Homo sapiens: one gene and its partners. The protein of the gene in region 3 interacts with the protein of the main gene of each other region in a biochemical or structural test. Each region holds a gene or a part of one and is shown on either strand. Other genes may lie near its edges.

Region 1 (7,036 bases), on a different chromosome or scaffold from region 3:
GGATAACATCACCCACCATGTTTGGAGAATTGCAGATTTGGGACAAAGAAGAAATGACTGTTTCACTAGAAGGACAGCCATAACTCTGGTAGGAGATGAACATCTTCAGGACAAGAGATAAGCACTCCCTCAAACCTGTCACTTTTAGTACCTGGGATATCTGAATCAACTCTATATAATCAACAAGAGAATTAGGCAAATAACATCTGGTTGCACTGATGGACAAAGGACATAAAGATGTTATTTTCAAATGTCTTCTCCTGAAGAAAAATGAAAATTGTGTAGCCAGTCACCATTTTAGGCCACTCATTCTTGTCCAGTCATCTGTAGGATTATGGTTTGAGGGACTTTTTAAAACAAAAGTAAAAGCAATACATATGATTTGATAAGTTCCATGATTAAACTGAACTAATAAAAATAGTAACCACTCAATGAATATGCCATATGCTATACCAAGTATGTTAGCTGGAGTGCCTCACTTAACCTTCACCATAACCCTGGGCAGTTAGGAGAATGTATTATGTCCATTTTTATGATTCACACCCGTATCTGTCCGACATCAAAACTCAAATTCTCAGCCGCCTCAGAAGGCAACCTCCACAAGAACAACTCTTCTCCTCATCTCCATGTGAGCAGAAGGGCCTTAAGTGTGAAAGGCAAGGACCTGGTCGTTTTAGGTACGAAGACATCCCATGACATATGGCCCCACAACTACAGCAGGCACCAACAGAGGAAGTACAGAAAAAAATAGCCTGGGCTGGTAAGACACAGCAATAGGTAGCATCACAGCATGGCATGGGTATTTTTAACACACCTTTGTCTATTAAGACGGCAACAATGCAAGCTCCAGAGCTGGTCTACGTGGCAACAGCAGCACCATGCTTATGTACACAGATTGTGGAGTCTAGCTCATCTGGATTCAAATTCCTCCTCCACCACGTGCTAGAAATGTATGGCCCTGGGTAATTTAACTTCTCATCCCTTTTAGTCTCCTCATCTGTAAAATGGGGATAATAGTTCTACCTATTACCTAGAGTTGCTCTGATGAGGAAATGAAATGATCCATGACAACACTCAGCTGAGTAACTACCCAACTGGAAATAACAGCCGGTCATTATGGTTATTACTGTTATTTTTAATATTGTTTTATTATTTCTGCACTATTTTACTTGATTGGCCCAACATATACTTCAGGGTGGGGTACACTGTTAATCAAGATTTTGAAATTCTCAAGATGAATATGTATGATTTTTCTTGCAAGATCGGTACACTTGAGATTAATGAAAGCAAAATTTCAAGCACAAACAAGGCCAAGTATACAAGAACATAAAACACTTTAACAGAGACTTTTAAAAAATTATTTAAGGATATGGGCTCAACAATTTCAATATAGTGCCAGTTCTAACCATAAATAATTGCTAGGCTCATACACTTCAAAATACTTCACCAACTGGGGTATTTTTTTTTTATCATATTCCTGTGCTCAAACTGATTTTATTATTCACTTAGTATGCTAGCAAGCACTGCCTTGGAAACTAAAGGCATGCTTATAATTCTTCGAGGGACTTCTCACTATGACTGCTTAGTATTATGTTAAAGATGTTTAATAGTTTTTAGGTGTGTTGAAATAATATGCACATTTGCTAATTATGTTTTAAATATCAACAGACAGATTTCTAAAATGTTGATATAACAGGGCACAGTGGTGCATGCCAGTAATCCCAGCTACTTGGGAGGCTGAGGCAGGAAAAGCCTTTGAGCTCAGGAATTAGAATCCAGCCTGGACAGTATTGTGAGACCCCATCTCGAAAACGAAACAAAACAAAAATGGATAACAAATAAAATGTTTGTGGTTTCTTTCAAAATGATGAAAAGAGGACACAGTGGCCTCTAAAAAGTTAAAGTAGTTCCCCAAACTTGCTGCAGAACTAGAAAGAAAATTAACTAGTAAGGTGCCATGTACCCTTTTTTAGACATACTGCAAATATGGTATAGAAATCTGACTGTTTTACACTGAGGATACTAGGGAAAGGAGGTGATGTGTCCAACCTAACACATGTGTCTAATTGCACACCTTTCCCTACACAAAGGGTGGGTGTGGAAACCCAGGTCGCACGCGGTCCCTGCTCAGCAGCAGATGGCTATTTGCCCAACCTCATCCTGATGAAATACATGGTGGAAAACTCAAATCCACCACATGACCTCTGCTGCCTCCTCAGCCACTGCAGATGCCAGGAGAGAAGGCAGGCCCCAAAGAAGCATCCCCTCTATTCTTCCATTAAAGCCACATCCACAGGGGCCTGCATGCGCCTTTCCATTCGATGTCTACACCTCTTAGAAATGATCTCTTACACCCTAAGAATACACTGCTGGCTGGACCTAATGACAGAATGTATTTTAAAGAGTTTTTTTTTTTTTTTTTTAAGAAAAACTGGCAAGTTGAAGAAATAGTATTAGATATAAATTGCCACAGAGTAGTTGGCACAAGCCCATCTGAAGCTGAAGTTAGTGCACCAAGTTTTCCTGCCATTCCACACGTGGAAACATTACTTCTCCTGAATTTAAGCTTATTCAAATAATCACTCAAAACTATTGCAGGTGAAGGTAAACTTTCACATGAAGCATGTCCCTACAAACAACACAAGACAGGAAGGAACCCAGAAGACTTGACTGAGTCACAATGGCCACCAGAAAGGCCCATGAGGAACACACAATGACAATAAAAGTATCTTTGAAACAGACCCCTAATTAAAGACACTGAGTCCCAGGAAGGTTATCTTTATGCACACAAGAACAAAATTTGATCTATAACAAAAAGTTCTATCACCCATATTGGCTGGCAATCACCCATATTAGCTGGCAAACACAAAAATACAAACACTTCCCTAAAAAAGCTCCAAAATTACTGTCCTGTATTTTCATAATTTTTCTTATATAATATTAAAGTCAGCAATTCAGAAGCTTTTCTGGGTGTAACAGCATCGCTCATCTGCCACCGGCAACCATGCTTTACAATCTACTTTTCATAATAACTGAACAAAGTAACTTTGAAGGTAATTTACTTATTAAACTGGTTTATACATACTCCACTAAAAACCAGGTAAGTATTCTGATAAACATTGGTATTCTTCTCCACATTTATTTAAATAATGTATTCACTCCTTCCTTGCTTCTGTATGACTACAACCAACTTCTAAAATACAACTCTCTCCGAGGGAGACTGCAGCCCCGAGAACATGGGGGACCTGCCACCCACGTGCCGGGAACCCAAAGACCTTGCCCTAATATGTGACTAGCAACAGAAAGCAGCCTCCGTAAGGGGACATACAGAAGAACAAAATGTGCCAAGGTCTGGTTACCACAGGATTCTACGCTCAACCTGGAATGAGCAAACTCCTACAAAGTGCTATGTATCAGGCAAGTAACAAGCAAAGTGCTATGTATTCAGCAAGTAAGGCTTCCCTCCCCTCTCCCATTTCACTGAACCCATTCACATTCCTTGATGAACTCCCCACGTCCAATATCTTTTGGTTAAAGCTAGCAGATTACTTTTTTTAAAGTTCTGGAATGCCACTAGCAATGCAAAGGATAAAACAATGTCATCATGGTCCATTATCAGCTACCTCAGTCATATGCTACAAGAACTCATGAGCTTCCTTCTCAAATCTTCAGCAGATCTGATTCTTGCCTCTGTGAATAGGATCAGTAGCCAACCAGCCAAGCAGGGAACATGCTAGAAACCTATATGCCCTGAGATCTCCCTCTTGAGAGCGCATCTATCCCCAAGTCCTATTCGTTGAAACTGTTAAATATCTCTCAAATCTGTCCATTTCTCTCCATCCCCATGGCCACCACCAATCTAGTCCAAATCATTGTGATTTCCCCATCCCACAGACCACAACAAAAGCAGGCAGGATATTGTCTACAACCTATTGTCCTCTCTGCACCCACCAATTCAATCTTCTTCAAAACACTACTCTGCTCGTGTCAAAGGCTGCTTAACACTCATCAGTGGTTCCTACTGCTTTTTTCAAAAATCCCAAATTTGATATCCTGAAAGCCCTGACCAAGTTGGATACTGCCTGCCTCGAGTCTCATCTTGCAGTTGAATGCCTCAAACACACAGCCTCCCTGCAGGTGAGGGGCACTGCCTGAAGTGCCCTCACCCCTTCTTCTACCATCATTCAGATGGTAATGCTAAAGCCACTTCCTAAGGGGTAATACCCCACCCAACTGACGGAATCCCCAAGTCCTAAGCTCTCACTCCTCCTGGCACCGACTGCATCACACCTATGACCTTACAGTAGCTCTAGTTTTTGTGTGAGTTTACCATGTCTTCTCATGTCATCACTATATTGACAATTCATAGCATTGCATCTTTCAGGTAGCAGGTACCCAACAAACAGCCGAATCAATGAGCAAAACCACAGATGAAACAGGAAGACTAATCACAGTCCAGATTCTGTGGCCGTGAAAGCCAATCCTGACATGCACAGAGGAAGCAAGGCTCAAAGGGTCACTTTAAAAAGTGCCTTAGATTCCACATTAGCATAGGTAAACAAGCCTGAGAGTGAACCAGCCTTTACTGACAAGTTAAGTTTCTTCATAAATACCTACGTTATTTTTTACTTTTAAAAAGACATTTCTAATTTTCAAAGTAAAAGCAGAACAGAAACCCCAAAAAAATCCTTCTCTGAAAAAACAATCATGTTTGCAGTCAGTCACCTAACATTAGTTAAAATGCAACAGGAATCTAGCTATGGTGATCAATACATGCATCTAAAGTGAAAACAGTTGTCAAATCTTGAAATAATTATCTCTGCATTTTTCCTAAATGGATAATCATAGTTAAAAAAAAAAAACCTCCAAAAACAGAAGCAAATTATTGTTGGTTTAGGAACATCTTTAAGAGTTATGTTGTCCTATGCTGTAGGATTCTAAAGCCTAAAGGTACCTTTGAGTCAGAACATGAGCAAGAGCTGTACTCTTCCAGAGCCAACAAAGACAAGACCAGCACCCCTCCTGCACTGGCACGATGCTAGGCACCAGGAACACAACTGTAACTGAGATAAGCTCTGCAACAGTGGGTGGCCAGTCAGAGGCAGTTCATTTAATTAATCTCTCTGGACTTTAGTTTCTTAATCTGTAAAATGAGAAAGTTCAACTAGCTCTCTAAGGTCCTCACACTCTAAATATCCAATCATTCTCTAATAAGGATAAAATGAATTTTTATTTGACAACATCATTACAACTTCCTGTTTCTATTTCTTCTTTTTATCATGCAGATGTGATTTCATTTACAATTTTTAATCTATTGACAAAAGTAAAATATGGACACATAGTCATGATGTTTTAAATTACCTTCCTAGCTCTTAACAACCACCATAATCAGCTATGGACCTCTGCCATCACTGCAACCTGAGTGATACCCAAATTGAAATAAATCATTCCATCTTTGTATTTTTTGTAGAAAAACCAAGCGATTATTGATCTCAATTTCTTTTATATTTTAACATTAGTCACCTTTGAATGTCAACAATTTTTTTAAAGACTAAATAATAAAGTTTTATAGAGAAAGGGGAAAATAGTATCTCCTGAACTAATGAAACCATAATGGTTTTGGAAACCTGTCTAGAAAAATGCTAAATTCTGAATTTCCAATCGCATGAAAAGAACAGATTTTTTTAAGATACACAAATATGCCCACATGAGTGAACAAGACAATTGAAAGGGTCCCACAGAGCCAATATATTGCTGACATCATCTTAATATCACCTAAGATGTTCCTTCTCCATCCTTTTTGGTGATTTTAGCTATGTGACTATGTGCTTACTTTTTACATGTAGAAATCATTTACTGAAAAAGAATCACTGTCTTACAAAGTTGAAGTTTTAAGAGCCATTTGCTCAGACCTGACTAAACATTTTTATTCTTGCAATGCCACATTTATATTCGATGTTTCTAAGATGGCCATGGTGTCTGCTATCAAACCCAAAAGGTTGTATTTAGTTAATGAAAGATGAAAGATAACTATTACTTATAAGTTTATCTTAAAAGTCAAATGTGAATATTTGCTTACCTATAGAACTGCTCTCTATTAGATGGTACACTCCCTAAAGGAAAGTACTGCCTTTTATTGTTTTAACCATGGAAGGCTTGCCAAGGTTTGCTGAATCAAAGTTAACTAAAGGCATGGTGACTGTGTGGCAAGCAAACTTTTTCAAGCATATGGAATACAATGCTGTAATCTTAGGTTTGAAAGAACTACACTAACTTGGCACTTACATGGCTTTTATGGGTTACACAGCAGGCACACAGAAGCATTTACAGTGTATTTTCTCATAACAAAATATTTCTGTTATTTTGACCTAACTGCTTAAAAACTATAACATATTATTGACTTCGCATCTGTATGAAAAACGGTTGTAACATTTCCTTGATGTTACTGTATTATAAAGGTACTCTTCATGGTATTCATTTTAACTCAATAAAAGTAAGGCTAACCTAGAAAGAAGGCTCATTATGAAAAAAGTTTAGGAAATGTTCCTGTAAGTTGAACTGATTAAAAACTAGACCAAATACTGGTGAATCTATAAAAGTACTATTTTAAAACTAAGTTACTGAATACGTTGTTATAAATTTGACTTCCATATTTTCAACTTGGGAAAAAAAGTTATTTCTTTCCTTGAAAGAGGAAAATAATATTTGGGTTTTTAAACATCACCGGTACAACCACTCTACCATTCCTGTATTGTGCCTTCCATGTTAAGACATATAAAAGAAAGTAACTTTTTAAAAAAACTAATTTAAAAATAAGGCCATTGATTAAATGAATATAATAATTTAAAATTCATATACCAGTCTTTTAAAATTATAATTCATTTCTTATCTGAAAACTCATTTCAATCGCGAAAGCATAGACCCAGGATACAATTCATCATGGTTCAATTTAGTGACTCGAACAGGAGAAAAAATTAGAAAATATAAAGAGAAAAAAACCCACAGTGCTAGAAAACAATCCCAATTCTTGAGTACC
Region 2 (7,036 bases), on a different chromosome or scaffold from region 3:
AGCCCATACGTTTTGGTATATCTTCGTTTTCATTCATTGCAAAAACATTTTCTGATTTCCCTTGTCATTTCTTCTTTGACTTGTTGCTTATTTAGGAGTGTGTTGCTTTATTTTTGCATATTTGTGAATGCACTTACTTTTCAATTTTAGAATCAACCCATAGTGCTATTACAGAACACTTATCTGTAATTACAAAATAGAATGTGAATGTTCTCAGCCAGACAATATGAAAGAAAAGGTACAGCTGATAGAGGTGGGGAAGTAGCCATGGAGAGAGAAAAGATTGAAGGGCAAATGTCCTCATTTTTACAAAGTAGGAAGTTAAGGGATACAGTCTGCGGTTGATGGAGCAGGAAATGAAGGTGTACTGTATTGTCATTTTTGTCATAAATTGGGCAAAACACATATGTACGGATCTCTAATAGTTTTTTGTTTTGTTTTGTTTTGTTTTTTGAGACAGAGTCTCGCTCTGTCCCCCAGGCTGGAGTACAGTGGCGCGATCTCGGCTCACTGCAAGCTCCGCCTCCCGGGTTCACGCCTTTCTCCTGCCTCAGCCTACCAAGTAGCTGGGACTTCAGGCACCCGCCACCACGCCCGACTAATTTTTTGTATTTTTTTAGTAGAGATGGGGTTTCACCATGTTAGCCAGGATGGTCTCGATCTCCTGACGTTGTGATCCGCCTGCCTTGGCCTTCCAAAGTGCTGGGATTACAGGCGTGAGCCATCGCACCCGGCCGGATCTATAATAGTTTTTAAAACTATATTAATATATTAACTTGAATTGGCAATTTAAAAATTGATCTTCATGGAATCTCTGAATTAGATTATCCTTTTTTATGACTTTCTAAAGAGAAATCATCCTGGTAATTTTATTTGATATTTTCTCTTCCCATTGCACACCTTGTTTTACTAATATTTCTTTTTTCTTTATATATATTTTTTTGCCATCAAGATCACTGTGGTAAGGAATATTATTTTGTTGATTTAATATTTCTTATTTTTCCCAGGCTGAGGCAGCTAAATTAGTTCCAATGGGTTTCACCACTGCAACTGAATTCCACCAAAGGCGGTCAGAGATCATACAGATTACTACTGGCTCCAAAGAGCTTGACAAACTACTTCAAGGTGTAGTAATCCTTTATCCTGTGTTGTGAACTCTAGTTAGGAAAGCTTCCAGGTTATAAAACAAAACTGAAATATTTGTGTAGCATTTCCTTGTTAGATAATGATAAAGAGATAGAGGAAGGCCAGGTGCAGTGGCTTATGCCTGTAATCTCAGCACTTTGGGAGGCTGAGGTGGGCAGATCACCTGAGGCTGGGAGTTCGAGACCAGCCCAGCCAACATGGAGAAACCTATTAAAAATACAAAATTAGTTGGGCATGGTGGCACATGCCTGTAATCCCTGTAGGTGCACATGCCTACTCGGGAGGCAGAGGCAGGAGAATCACTTGAACCCGGAAGACGGAGGTTGCTGTGAGCCAAGATTGTGCCACTGCACTCCAGCCTGGGTGACGAGCAAAACTCTGTCTCAAAAACAAAGAGAGATAAAGGAAGTATCCACATTGAAGAGGTAAGACTGCTGCAAGGTAGGACCTTATTTATAAAATACTAAACTTATCTGCAAATTAAATAATTTAGTCTCCATTTAATATTGTGTTAAGAGAGTAAGCTCCTTTTGCTTAAGGAGGTAACTGTAATTATAACCTACTCTACCACAGGGTTGAAAACCTGATGACTGGTTAAAACATTCCATGTTTGAATACTACTCATTGTGTACACACTAATCTTCAGGACTTCAGGGAAAACTATAAAGCTTTTGACCTTATTATTTATTTTTCGAGACAGGGTCTCACTCTGTCACCCAGGCTGGAGTGCAGTGGCATGGTCTCAGCTCACTGCAACCTCTGCTTCCTGGGCTCAAGTGATCTTCTAGCCTCAGTCTCCCCAAGCTAGGACTATGATCATTTACCACCTGGCTAATTTTTTTTTTTTTTTTTTTTTTTTTTGAGTCGGGGCATCACTCATTATGTTGCCCAGGCTGGTCTCAAAATCCTGAGCTCAAGCCATCCTCCTGCCTCAGCCTCCCAAAGTGCTGGGATTATAGGCTTGAGCCACCTTGCCTGGCCCAATGTCAGTTTTCTTTCCCTTTTTTTTGAGACAGAGTCTCACTCTGTTACCCAGGCTGGAGTGCAGTGGCATAATCTCAGCTCACTGCAACCTCCGCCTCCTGGGTTCAAGTGATTCTCCTGCCTCAGCCTCCCAAGTAGCTGGGACTACAGGCAAGTGCCACCATGCCCAGCTAATTTTTGTATTTTTAGTAGAGATGAGGTTTCACCACGTTGGCTAGGTTGGTCTCGAACTCCTGACCTCAGATGATCTACCCGCCTCAGCCTCCCAAAGTGCTGGGCTTACAGGCGTGAGCCATCATGCCTGGCCCCCAATGTCAGTTTTCTAATATCAGTGCTATACTATCATTATGCAAGAGGTTAACACTGCAGAAGGCTAGGTGCATAGAAATTTCGTATGTTTTTTTTTGTTGTTGTTGGTTTGTTTGTTTGTTTTTTAAAGACAGAGTCTTGCTCTGTTGCCCAGGCTAGAATGCAGTGGCACAATCTCGGCTCATTGCAACCACTGACTCCCAGGTTTGAGCAGTTCTCCTGCCTCAGTCTCCTGAGTAGCTGCAATGACAGGCACCCGCCACCGTGCCTGGCTAATTTTTGTATTTTTAGTAGAGACGGGATTTCACCGTCTTGGCCAGGCTGGTCTCAAAGTCCTGACCTCCTGATCCATCCACCTCGGCCTCCCAAAGTGCTGGGATTACAGGCATGAGCCACTGTGCCCAGCTTTTTTTTTTTTTTTTTTTTTTGAGATGGGGTCTTGCTATGTCACCCCGGCTGGAGTGCAGTGGCATGATCTTGGCTCACTGCCACTTCCGCCCCCAGGTTCAAGCTATTCTTCTGCCTCCGCCTCCCGAGTAGCTGGGACTACAGGCATGCACCACCATGCCCAGCTAATTTTTGTATTTTTAGTAGAGACAGGGTTTCACCATATTGTGCCCAGCTTTTTTTTTTTTTTTTTTGAGGAGTCTCACTTTGTCACCCAGGCTGGAGTGCAGTGGCGTGATCTCGGCTTGCTGCAGCCTCCGCCTCCCAGGTTCAAGTGATTCTCCTGCTTCAGCCTGCTAGTAGCTGGGATTACAGGTGCCCATCACCAGTTCCAGCTAAGTTTTGTATTTTTAGTAGACATGAGGTTTCACCATGTTGGCCAGGCTGGTCTCGAGCTCCTGACCTCAGGTGATCAGCCCGCCTCGGCCCCCTAAAGTGCTGGGATTACAGGTGTGAGCCACCGCACCTGGCCTTATTTGCAGCTATCTATAAATCTAATTATTTCAAAATACTTTTGGTTTATTTGTTTGTTTGTTTGTTTGTTTTGAAACAGGGTCTCACTGTGTCACCCAGGCTAGAGTGCACTGGCACGATTTTGGCTCACTGCAACTTCTGCCTCCCAGGCTCAAGTGATCCTCTCACCTTAGCTCCTGAGTAGCTGGTACTACAGGCATCCGCCACCATGCCCGGCTAATTTTTGTAGAGACAGGGCTTCACCATGTTGCCCAGGCTGGTCTCGAACTCCTGAACTCAAGCAATCCACCCACCTAAGCTTCCTAAAGTGCTGGGATTACAGGCATGAGCCACCACGGCTAGCCTCAAAATACATTTGTGAAAAATTATCGCTTGTTGGAAATTGAATTTTTAACTTACATAAACATCTTTCTGATGAGCTCCAAGAACATTTCTATGACTACAGTTTCTACATGTTTGTATTATGCTAAGAGTTATTTCTTATCGCTTTTTTAGGTGGAATTGAGACTGGATCTATCACAGAAATGTTTGGAGAATTCCGAACTGGGAAGACCCAGATCTGTCATACGCTAGCTGTCACCTGCCAGGTGAGCTGTTGGGGCTATAGCTAATCAAATAAGCAAGCATTACTTCATTCCTGCTATTTGCAAGCATCTGTTAGGATGGCCATAAAAGGTACTTTCTCTGTCCTCAAGAATCTTATAGCTGTTAATAGTTAGAAGATAGACTCCTACTTCAAAATCCTTCCATGTCATAGAAACTTCCAAATCATTGATCTCCTATCAGATACGTTAATTTCAAATACTTTTGCTACCAGGCCTTTTCCTGGCTTTACTTGCTACTTTTTTTTTTTTTTTTTTTTTTTGAGGCAGAATCTCGCTGTGTCGCCCAGGCTGAAGTACAGTGGTGTGATCTCAGCTCACTGCAACCTCCTCTCTGGTTCAAGTGATTCTCCTTCATCAACCTCCCGAGTACCTGGGATTACAGGCGCCCACCAGCATGCCCGGCTAATTTTTGTGTTTTTAGTAGAGAGGGGGTTTCACCATGTTGGCCAGGCTCCTCTTGAACTCCTGATCTCAAGTGATCCACCCACCTTGGCCTCCCAAGTGCTGGAATTATAGGCGTAAGCCACTGCGCCCAGCCCTCCATCTTCTTCATTAGTCTAGATTTTATGATTCATCATTAAAGTAATTCTCTTGCAGATAGCCTCAGTTTACATACCCACTTGAAGAGATGCCAACCTTAGATGAAACTCATCTATCTTCTCAGTGTCTGTACCCAAATAGCTGATTATACTGGAGAAAAATCGTATCATACAGCTGACTGACTTCACTTTAAATTCAAGATGACAGGCCAGGCACGGTGGCTCACGCCTGTAATCCCAGTACTTTGGGAGGCCGAGGCGGGTGGATCACTTGAGATCAAGAGTTTGGCTGGGCGCGGTGACTCACGCCTGTAATCCCAGCACTTTGGGAGGCCGAGGTGGGCGGATCACAAGGTCAGGAGATTGAGACCATCCTGGCTAACACAGTGAAACCCCATCTCTACTAAAAATACAAAAAATTAGTTGGGCGTGGTGGCGGGTGCCTGTAGTCCCAGCTACTTGGGAGGCTGAGGCAGGAGAATGGCGTGAACCCGGGAGGCACAGCTTGCAGTGAGCCGAGATTGCGCCACTGCACTCCAGCCTGGGCGACAGAGCGAGACTCTGTCTCAAAAAAAAAAAAAAAAAAAAAAAAAAAAAGAAGAAGAAAAAAAAAAGATCAGGAGTTCAAGACCAGCCTGGCCAACATGGTGAAACCCTGTCTCTACTAAAAATACAAAAATTAGCTGGGCGTGTTGGCACGTGCCTGTAATCCCAGTTACTTGGGAGACTGAGGCAGGAGAATCGCTTGAACCCGGGGGGCAGAGGTTGCAGGGAGCTGAGATCGCACCATTGCATTCCAGCCTGGTCAAAGAAGCGAGACTCTGTCTCAAAAAAAAAAAAAAAAAAAAAAAGAATGAAAAAAGGAAAAAAATTCAAGATGACAAAACTTTAGATTAACATTCAAAACTTCTTGGCAGTCTACTTTCTCCATTTAGGTGTACTTTCCCACTGAGTTAGACAGGCATCTCATATCTCATACTTCGTCTTCTGTTATCAGAACTTTATGCTCCTCTTCAACTCTCATTCTTAGCCAAAAACCTAACCTGCTCTTTGCATCAAATCTACATTTGTGCCCATCTTTTCTTATCTCAGGTTACAATTGAGAAAGTGTCCCTTTTCTTCTCAAAGGCCCATTCTATCAATATGATTTGGTTACCATCTCCTGCCACCTTCTCAAGGACTCTACTCCTTCCATTTTCTCTTGTACCTCTCTATGAGATTATCCTCATCAGTATACAAATATGTCTAGTGTCTCCTCCATTAGGAAAAAACCTTCCCTGGACCCCTTCAGTTTCTTTTTCCTTTACTTATGCTCCTATTGGTGGGAAGATTTGGAAATAGACACAGTAGGTTAAATAATTGCCCAATACATTGTATTTAAGTAGCAAATACTGGACTCAAACCAGACTTCAGAGATGATGTTCTTAAAACTTCATAAGAGGCCAGCATGGTGTTTCATGCCTGTAATCCCAGTACTTTGGGAAGCCAAAGTGGGAGGATTGCTTGAGACCAGGAATTTGAGACCAGCCTGGGCAACATAGTGAGACCCTGTTTCTGAGATGCCATTTCTAAAAACAAACAAACAAAAACAGACAATTAAAAATATTAGCCCAGCATGATGATGTGTACCTGTGGTCCTAGCTACTCAGGAGGCTGAGGTGGTAGAATCTCTTGAGCCCAAGAGGTCGAGGCTCCAGTGACTGGGATCGTGCCACTGCATGTTTTCTGCTGTATTGCTAGTGCCTAAGGCAGTGTTTGGCTCTCAGTAAACAATAAATGCTTGAATGAGTGGAGATAATAGATGTCCAAAAACATGCCTGATATATAAAATGAATGTCACAGAGGAAATGGGTTAGCTGTTTAAGGAATAGAAAGGGGTAATTTCACCCTAGAGTGATCATGGAATACTTTATGGAGAAAAGATTTTGGACCAGACTTCTGAAGAATGCTAAATTTGGGAAGGAAGGAAATTAAAAGCATTTAACTGTATAGAATGGGATGAACAGAGGATGGGAAGGCATAAGTTAGAAGGAAAAGACAATAAATAAGCAAGGTCATTTAACTGGTTTAGAGTTTGTGTAGAAAAGTTGTAGGAGATGACCCTTAAAAAGATACATCAAACTGGGCATGATAGCTCACACCTGTAATCCCAGCACTTTGGGAGGCCACGGTGGGTGGATCGCTTGAGCTCAGGAGTTTGAGACCAGCCTGGGCAACATGGCAAGACCCTATCTCTACAAATAATATAAAAATTAGCCAGACGTGGGCTGTGCCTGTAGTGGCAGCTACTTGGGAGGTGGAGGCGGGAGAATCGCTTGAGCCCAGGAGGCCAAGGTTGCCATGAGCCAAGATTGTACCACTGCTCTCCAGCCTGGGCAACAGAGCAAGATTTTGTCTCCATCTCAAAAAAAAAAAAAAAATTAAGATCCTATTTCAGAAGGTTAAGAAGTTTAAACTTGATTTTATGAAGAGTAAGCATTAGCTGGTCAGGAAACTAAGATAGTGACAATAAAGAGAAGTAGGGAAAAGATG
Region 3 (7,000 bases):
AGAACAGACAAAAGCCGCAGGGACGAAGTTGGGGTCGTGATAGCGCTTGAAGTGCATGTCGAGAAGCTGCTTCTGGCGGAAGGTCTTATCGCAGTGGCTGCAGGCGTAAGGCTTCTCCCCGGTGTGGGTGCGCTTGTGCATGATCATGTGCCTCTCCTGAAACGGCATAGGGGGAAAGGCCTCAGAGCCTGCTCATGGGGCTACTGCCCCAGCTGCCACCTGCATGCATGTGGCCAACAGGTATTTCTCACCCAAGCTAGGTCTAGACTCCACACGGCTTGTTGAGATGATAAAGCTATATATTTAGAGACAGGGTCTTGCTCTGTTGCAAAGTCTGGAGAGCAGTGGTGTGATCATGGCTTACTGCAGCTTCAAAATGGGACCATAGGTATGAGCCACCATGCCTGGCTAATTTTTTTTGTTTTTTTTTTGAGACGGAGTCTCGCTCTATCGCCCAGGATGGAGTGCAGTGGCGCGATCTTGGCTCGCTGCAACCTCCACCTCCCGGATTCAAGCAATTCTCCTGCCTCAGCCTCTTGAGTAGCTGCGATTACAGGTGCCTGCCACCACACCCAGCTGACTTTTTTTTTTTTTTTTTTTTTTGAGATGGAGTCTCACTCTGTCGCCCAGGCTGGAGTGCAGTGGCGCAATCTCGGCTCACTGGGTTCATGCCATTCACCTGCCTCAGCCTCCGGAGTAGCTGGGACTACAGGCACCCACCACCACGCCCAGCTGATTTTTTGTACAGACGGGGTTTCACTGTGTTAGCTAGGATGGTCTTGATCTCCTGACCTTGTGATCCACCTGCCTCGGCCTCCCAAAGTGCTGGGATTACAGGCGTGAGCCACCGCGCCCGGCCGACCTTCGTGTTTTTTTGTTTTTTTTTTTTAGTAGAGATGGGATTTCACCAGGTTGGCCAGGCTGGTCTTGAACTCCCAACCTCAAATGATCTGCCTGCCTTGGCTTCCCAAAGTGCTGGGATTACAGGTGTGAGTCACCGTGCCTGGCCCCAGCTAATTTTTTCTTTTTCTTTTGGAGACAGAGTCTCGCTCTGCCACCCAGGCTGGAGCGCAGTGGCGCAATCGCGGCTCAATGCAACCTCCGCCCCAGGTTCAAGCGATTCTCCTGCCTCAGCTTCCAGAGTAGCTGGGATTACAGGCGTCTATCACCATGCCCGGCTAATTTTTGTATTTTTAGTAGAGGCGGGGTTTCACCGTGTTGGCCAGGCTGCTCTCAAGCTCCTGACCTCAAGTGATCCGCCCACCTCAGCCTCCCAAAGTGCTGGGATTACAGGCGCTCGAGCCACCGCGCCCGGCCCTAATTTTTTCTTTTTGTAGAGATGGGGTCTCTCTCTGTTGCCTATCTCGGCCTCCCAAAGTGCTAGGATTACAGGTGTGAGCCACTGCACCCGGCTTGATAAAGGTATTTTTAGTGTGGTGCACAACTGCTTCCATAATTGTAGCACAGATAGAGCTGCTTATTCCTGCTGAGCTCCTTCTTTGGCTCCCTCCCAACAGTCATGTCCCCGCATGAGATTCTTCCCCTCTCTCAAGTCCTGGACTTACTTTCCACAGTTTTCAGAAAGATGTCTGCTTAAGGAAGAGGTAAGCTGTGACTGAATAAAACATCATCTGGACACCGGGATGACACAATTGACAAGGAGCATGACCTTTGATTTTGGTGACATTCCTCATAATCCACAGTTTGAAAATACTATCTTTAAAAACAGCCACTGTACTAGATATGTAAATGCCCTCTGATAACACCAGACACCGAGAAAGCACCAACAACTTTCAATGAAGGTTCCTACCTGTCTACAAGCGTAATCACACTGGTCACACTTAAAGCGCTTCTCATTCTTGTGTGACTTCTGATGCTGGATGAGGGCATAGCGCTCATGAAACACAGCATCACAGTAACGGCATTTCTTGCCTTGCTCAATATAGGAATGCTGCTTTCGCAAGTGGACACCTGAAAGCACAGTAAAAAGCCCAGGGTAATGTGAAAACACAAACAAGCATTTTAACAAGTTACTAATACATTTCTCGATTCTTTTTTTTTTTTTTTTTTTTTGAGACGGAGTCTTGCTCTGTCACCCAGGCTGGAGTGCAGTGGCGCAATCTCAGCTCACTGCAAGCTCCACTTCCCAGGTTCATGCCATTCTCCCGCCTCAGCCTCCTGAGTAGCTGGGACTACAGGCGCCCGCCACCATGCCCGGCTAATTTTTTTATTTTTTATTTTTGTATTTTTAGTAGAGACAGGGTTTCATCATGTTAGCCAGGATGGTCTCAATCTCCTGACCTCGTGATCTGCCCGCCTCGGCCTCCCAAAATGCTGGAATTATAGGTGTGAGCCACTGCGCCCAGCCCATTTCTCCTGATTCTTAAGTATTACTCTGGGTGCTATACAGAAAATGAATGAAAAGGCAGAGTAACAGGTGCAGGGAGAACAATTAAGATTGTTCAAACAGGATAGGTGGGAGAAGATGGTGGCTGGGACAAGGGTGATGACAATGGGTGTGGATGGAAGGGGAAGAACTGATGAGAGATGGAAGCAGTTGAATCAACAGGATTTAGTGACTGTAGAGAGTGAAGAATAAAGTAGGTATCAGGCCTGGAAAACCAGGTAGCTGTTGGGGTCATTTATTGAGACAAGAATAGTGGAAGAGGGCTTAAGACCAAGTTGTATGTGTTATTTTCAGGGTCGGGGGGTGGGGGGGCATAGGGGACAGAGAAGTTTTAGACCTTCAGTTTTAGACATGCTGAATTTGAAATGCCAGAGATATAAAAGCAGGGGTGGGATGGCAAGGGATACACAGTTATATAAGGCTAACTCAAAAGAAAGATCTGGAGTAGGAATATAAATGTACAAGTTGTTAGGATTTGAAAGCAGCTATGCTTATCACTGTACCACCAATGCCACAAAGAGTTGTTAGAATTTGAGCCCATGGGAGCTGATAAGATCACCAAGGCAAAAAGTAGAATTAAAATAAAAAGAATGGGTCATGCTTTGAGAAGTCTAAGAGTTGGCAGGCACAGTGGCTCACGCCTGTAATCCTAGCACTTTGGGAGGCCATGGCAGGTGGATCACCTGAGGTGACGAGTTCAAGACCAGCCTGGCCAACATGGCAAAACTCTGTCTCTACTAAAAAGTACAAAAATTAGCTGGGCGTGGTGGTGTATGCCTGTAAACCTGTAATCCCAGCTACTCGGGAGGCTGAGGCAAGAAAATGGCTTGAACCTGGGGGGCAGAGGTTGCAGTGAGCCAAGATTGTGCTACTGCACTGTACTCTAGCCTGGGCGACAAAGACTCCATCTCAAAAAGAATCCCAGCACTTTAGGAGGCAAAGGTGGGTGGATCACCTGAGGTCAGGAGTTTGAGACCTGGCCTGGCCAACATATAGTGAAACCCGTCTCTACTGAAAAATACAAAAATTAGCTAGGCATGGTGGCGTACACCTGTGGTCCCAGCTACTCGGGAAAATGAGGAAGGAGAATCATTTAAACCAGGGAAGTGGTGGTTGCAGTGAGCCGAGATCGCGCCACTCTACTCCAGCCTGGGTGACAGAGTGAAACTCCGTCTCTCACACAAAGCACACAAGCACACATACACACAAAGAAGTCTCAGAGTTGGGCCAGGTGTGGTGGCTCACACCTGTAATCCTAGCATATTGGGAGGCTGAGGTGGGTGGATTGCTTGAGTCCAGGAGTACGAGACCAGCCTGGGCAACATAGTGAAACCCTGTCTCTACCAAAAGCTAAAAAAAAAAATTAGCTGGTCATCGTGGCATGTGCCTGTGGTCCTAGCTACCAGGGAGGCTGAGGTGGGAGGATTCCTTGAGCCTGGTCGATGCTGCAGTGAGCCAAGACTGAGCCACCGAACTCCAGCCTGGGCAACAGAGCAAGACAGTCTCCAGTAAAAAACAAAAACAAAAACAAAAACCTTGGAGTTAAGGCCAGTGAGAGAAAAAAAGGTTAAAATAAGAGAAAGTTTAAAGAAGTAAGAGGAAGAAGAAAACCAACAGGATTTAGTGTCACAGAGGCCAAGGGAAGAAAGTGTTTCAAAGGAAGAGGGTACTGTCAACGATGAAGAACACTGCTAACAGATCAAGTCATCTCTTAGGAAGAAGAGTGGAAAGGAGTCTTCACTACATTCAGAGAGTGGGGTCATTCATGACCTTAAGCAACAGTCATTATACCAGAGTGATGGGGAATAAGCCAGACAAGAGGGAAAGATGAGGGGGAGAAGACTGTGAGGGATGTTAACTCTTCATAAAGGCTGGCTGGGAAGGAGAGAAGAGTTAAACCTAGAGGGTGAAGACATACATATATATAAAAATACATATATATATGAATACATATATATATACACACATATATACACACACACACATATATATACACACACATACACACACACACACACACACACACACACACACACACACACACACATATATAATTTTTTTTTTTTTTTTTGAGACAGTGTCTCACTCTCTTGCCCAGGCTGGAGTGCCGTGGCGCGATCTCCGCTCACTGCAACCTCCCCCTCCCGGATTGAAGCAATTCTCCTGCCTCAGCCTCCCAAGTACCTGGGACTACAGGCATGTGCCACCACACCCGGCTAATTTTTGTATTTTTAGTAGAGATGGGGTTTCACTGTGTTAGCCAGGATGGTCTTCATCTCCTGACCTTGTGATCCGCCCATCTCAGCCTCCCAAAGTGCTGGGATTAGAGGCGTGAGCCACCGTGCCCGGCTATATTTTTATTTATTTTAAGAGACGGGGTCTTGCTATATCACACAGGTTGGTCTAGAACTCCTGGCCCATCCTCCTGAATAGCTGAAACTACAGGTGTGAGCCACTGTGTCTGGCTAAGATTCTTTTTTTTTTTTGAGATGGGGTCTCTCTGTCACCCAAGCTGGAGTGCAGTGGCACGATCTCGGCTCGTTGCAACCTCTACCTCTTAAGCTCAAGTGATCCTCCCACCACAGCCTCCTGAGTAGCTGGAACCAAGGGTGCACCTCACCACAACCGTTTTGTATTTTTGGTAGAGATGGAGTTTTGCCATGTTGCCCAGGCTGCTCCGGAACTCCTAAGCTCAAATGATCCACCCACCTTGGCCTCCCAAAGTGCTGGGATTACAGGCGTGAGCCACTGCGCCTGGCCCTTTGTCTTTATTTTTTAAGTAGGAAGAGAAGTCATTTACTGAGACCAAGAGGGGAGAGAAAAAAGAAGGAAAATTAGAGGTTATAAGAAAATAGGAGTAGGGGATCTGGTGTAGCAGCTCTCGCCTGTAATCCCAACACTTTGGGAGGCCAATGAGGGCAGATCACTTGAGGTCAGGAGTTCGAGAGCAGCCTGGCCAACATGGTGAAACCCTGTCTCTACTAAAAATACAAAAATTAGCCATGGGCGGGCACCTGTAGTCCCAGCCACTTGGGAGGCTGAGGCAGGAGAAGAGCTTGAACCCAGGAGGCGGAGGTTGCAGTGAACAGAGATCAGGCCACTGCACTCTGGCCTGGGTGACAAGTGCAAAACTTTGTCACAAAAAAAAGCAAGTGAGGGCTGGGCGCGGTGGCTCATGTCTGTAATCCCAGCACTTTGGGAGGCCGAGGTAGGCAGATCACCTGAGGTCAGGAGTTCAAGACCAGCCTGGCCAACATGGTGAAACCCCATCTCTACTAAAAAATACAAAAAAAAAAAAAAAAAAAAATTTAGCCGGGCATGGTGGTATGCGCCTATAATCTCAGCTACTCAGGAGGCTGAGGCAGGAGAATCACTTGAACCTGGGAGGCACAGGTGGCAGTGAGCTGAGTTCATGCCATCATACTCCAGCCTGGGTGACGAGAGGAAAACTCCATCTCAAAAAAAAAAAAAAAAAAAGTAAGAGTAGGTTGCCCAACTCTATATAAGCACCAAACACTGTGGAATGAATTCGCTCACTCATAAAGAACTGGAGCACACCTGACAAGAACAAACAGCTGGAACAGCTAGGAGCAGTGAGGGCCCAGCTACATTTGGGATCATGAATTTATGTATTTACGGTACTACAAGTTGTATCAACTGAGGTGATATCCCACTAAACTTAAAGAGAGCTAATTATTGGGAGTAGATATGAGGTAAGGGAGAGGATGGCTCTCACTTTTTACTCGTTACCTTTTTTTTTTTTGAGACAGAGTCGCGCTCTGTCACCCAGGCTGGAGTGCGGTGGCGTGATCTCTGCTCACTGCAAGCTCCACCTCCCAGGTTCACGCCATTCTCCTGCCTCAGCCTCCCGAGTAGCTGGGACTACAGGCGCCCACCACCATGCCCAGTTAATTTTTTGTATTTTTAGTAGAGACAGGGTTTCACCATGTTAGCCAGAATGGTCTCGATCGCCTGACCTCGTGATCCACCCGCGTTGGCCTCCCAAAGTGCTGGGATTACAGGTGTGAGCTGCCGCGCCCGGCCTACACTAAATATTATTAATAAACTCCGGCTGCATGTAAACTCTAGTTTAACTATGCACAGAAATACAGTTACCACTAAACCAATAAAACAGTCCCATTACCTAGAGAAAGTACAGACGTTCTCAAAAAAATACAATAGAATGACCTGAGTTTGAATCACACTATGTTACTTTCCTATTTGGGGAAGGAAGGCTACTAATTAAAGGTGTACTCTGTCTCCTCCCATCACAGCTCCCATTAATTTATAGATGAGTTTTACTCAGGACAGAATCTTGTGGCCTGACTACAGTAAGAAAAGGAAGAAATAGAAAAAAAAAAAAAAAAAAAGCAGCTAAGCAATGGCTTTTACTAAACTAAGTGACAGGCCATTCCTATACATAAAATGTTATGAGAGTCAGAAGGTGAAGTTATTTTTGATCCCCATATTTCGAAATATAAATCCTTCAAAATATTTTTTTCACTTCTCACTAGTTAATCTACTTACCCAAATCACTTTTTCGGGCTATGACTGTGTCACAGTGGGGACAGTGAAATTTGGCCACATTTTCTG

The links. The genes of interacting proteins can lie anywhere in the genome.
Region 1: the proteins of CTCF (region 3) and CHD7 interact in a test that uses a peptide from one of them, tested with the Homo sapiens proteins (one study listed by BioGRID).
Region 2: the proteins of CTCF (region 3) and RAD51 form a complex in vitro, tested with the Homo sapiens proteins (one study listed by BioGRID).

What each region holds. Positions count from the first base shown.
Region 1 is NC_000008.11:60,681,736-60,688,771, reverse strand, and holds part of CHD7 (chromodomain-helicase-DNA-binding protein 7), read right to left. Parts: intron 1-7,036. UniProt on the Homo sapiens protein: ATP-dependent chromatin-remodeling factor, slides nucleosomes along DNA; nucleosome sliding requires ATP. Probable transcription regulator. May be involved in the in 45S precursor rRNA production.
Region 2 is NC_000015.10:40,705,170-40,712,205, forward strand, and holds part of RAD51 (DNA repair protein RAD51 homolog 1), read left to right. Parts: intron 1-1,007; coding exon 1,008-1,125; intron 1,126-3,855; coding exon 3,856-3,947; intron 3,948-7,036.
Region 3 is NC_000016.10:67,621,526-67,628,525, reverse strand, and holds part of CTCF (transcriptional repressor CTCF), read right to left. Parts: coding exon 6,935-7,000; intron 1,972-6,934; coding exon 1,811-1,971; intron 157-1,810; coding exon 1-156.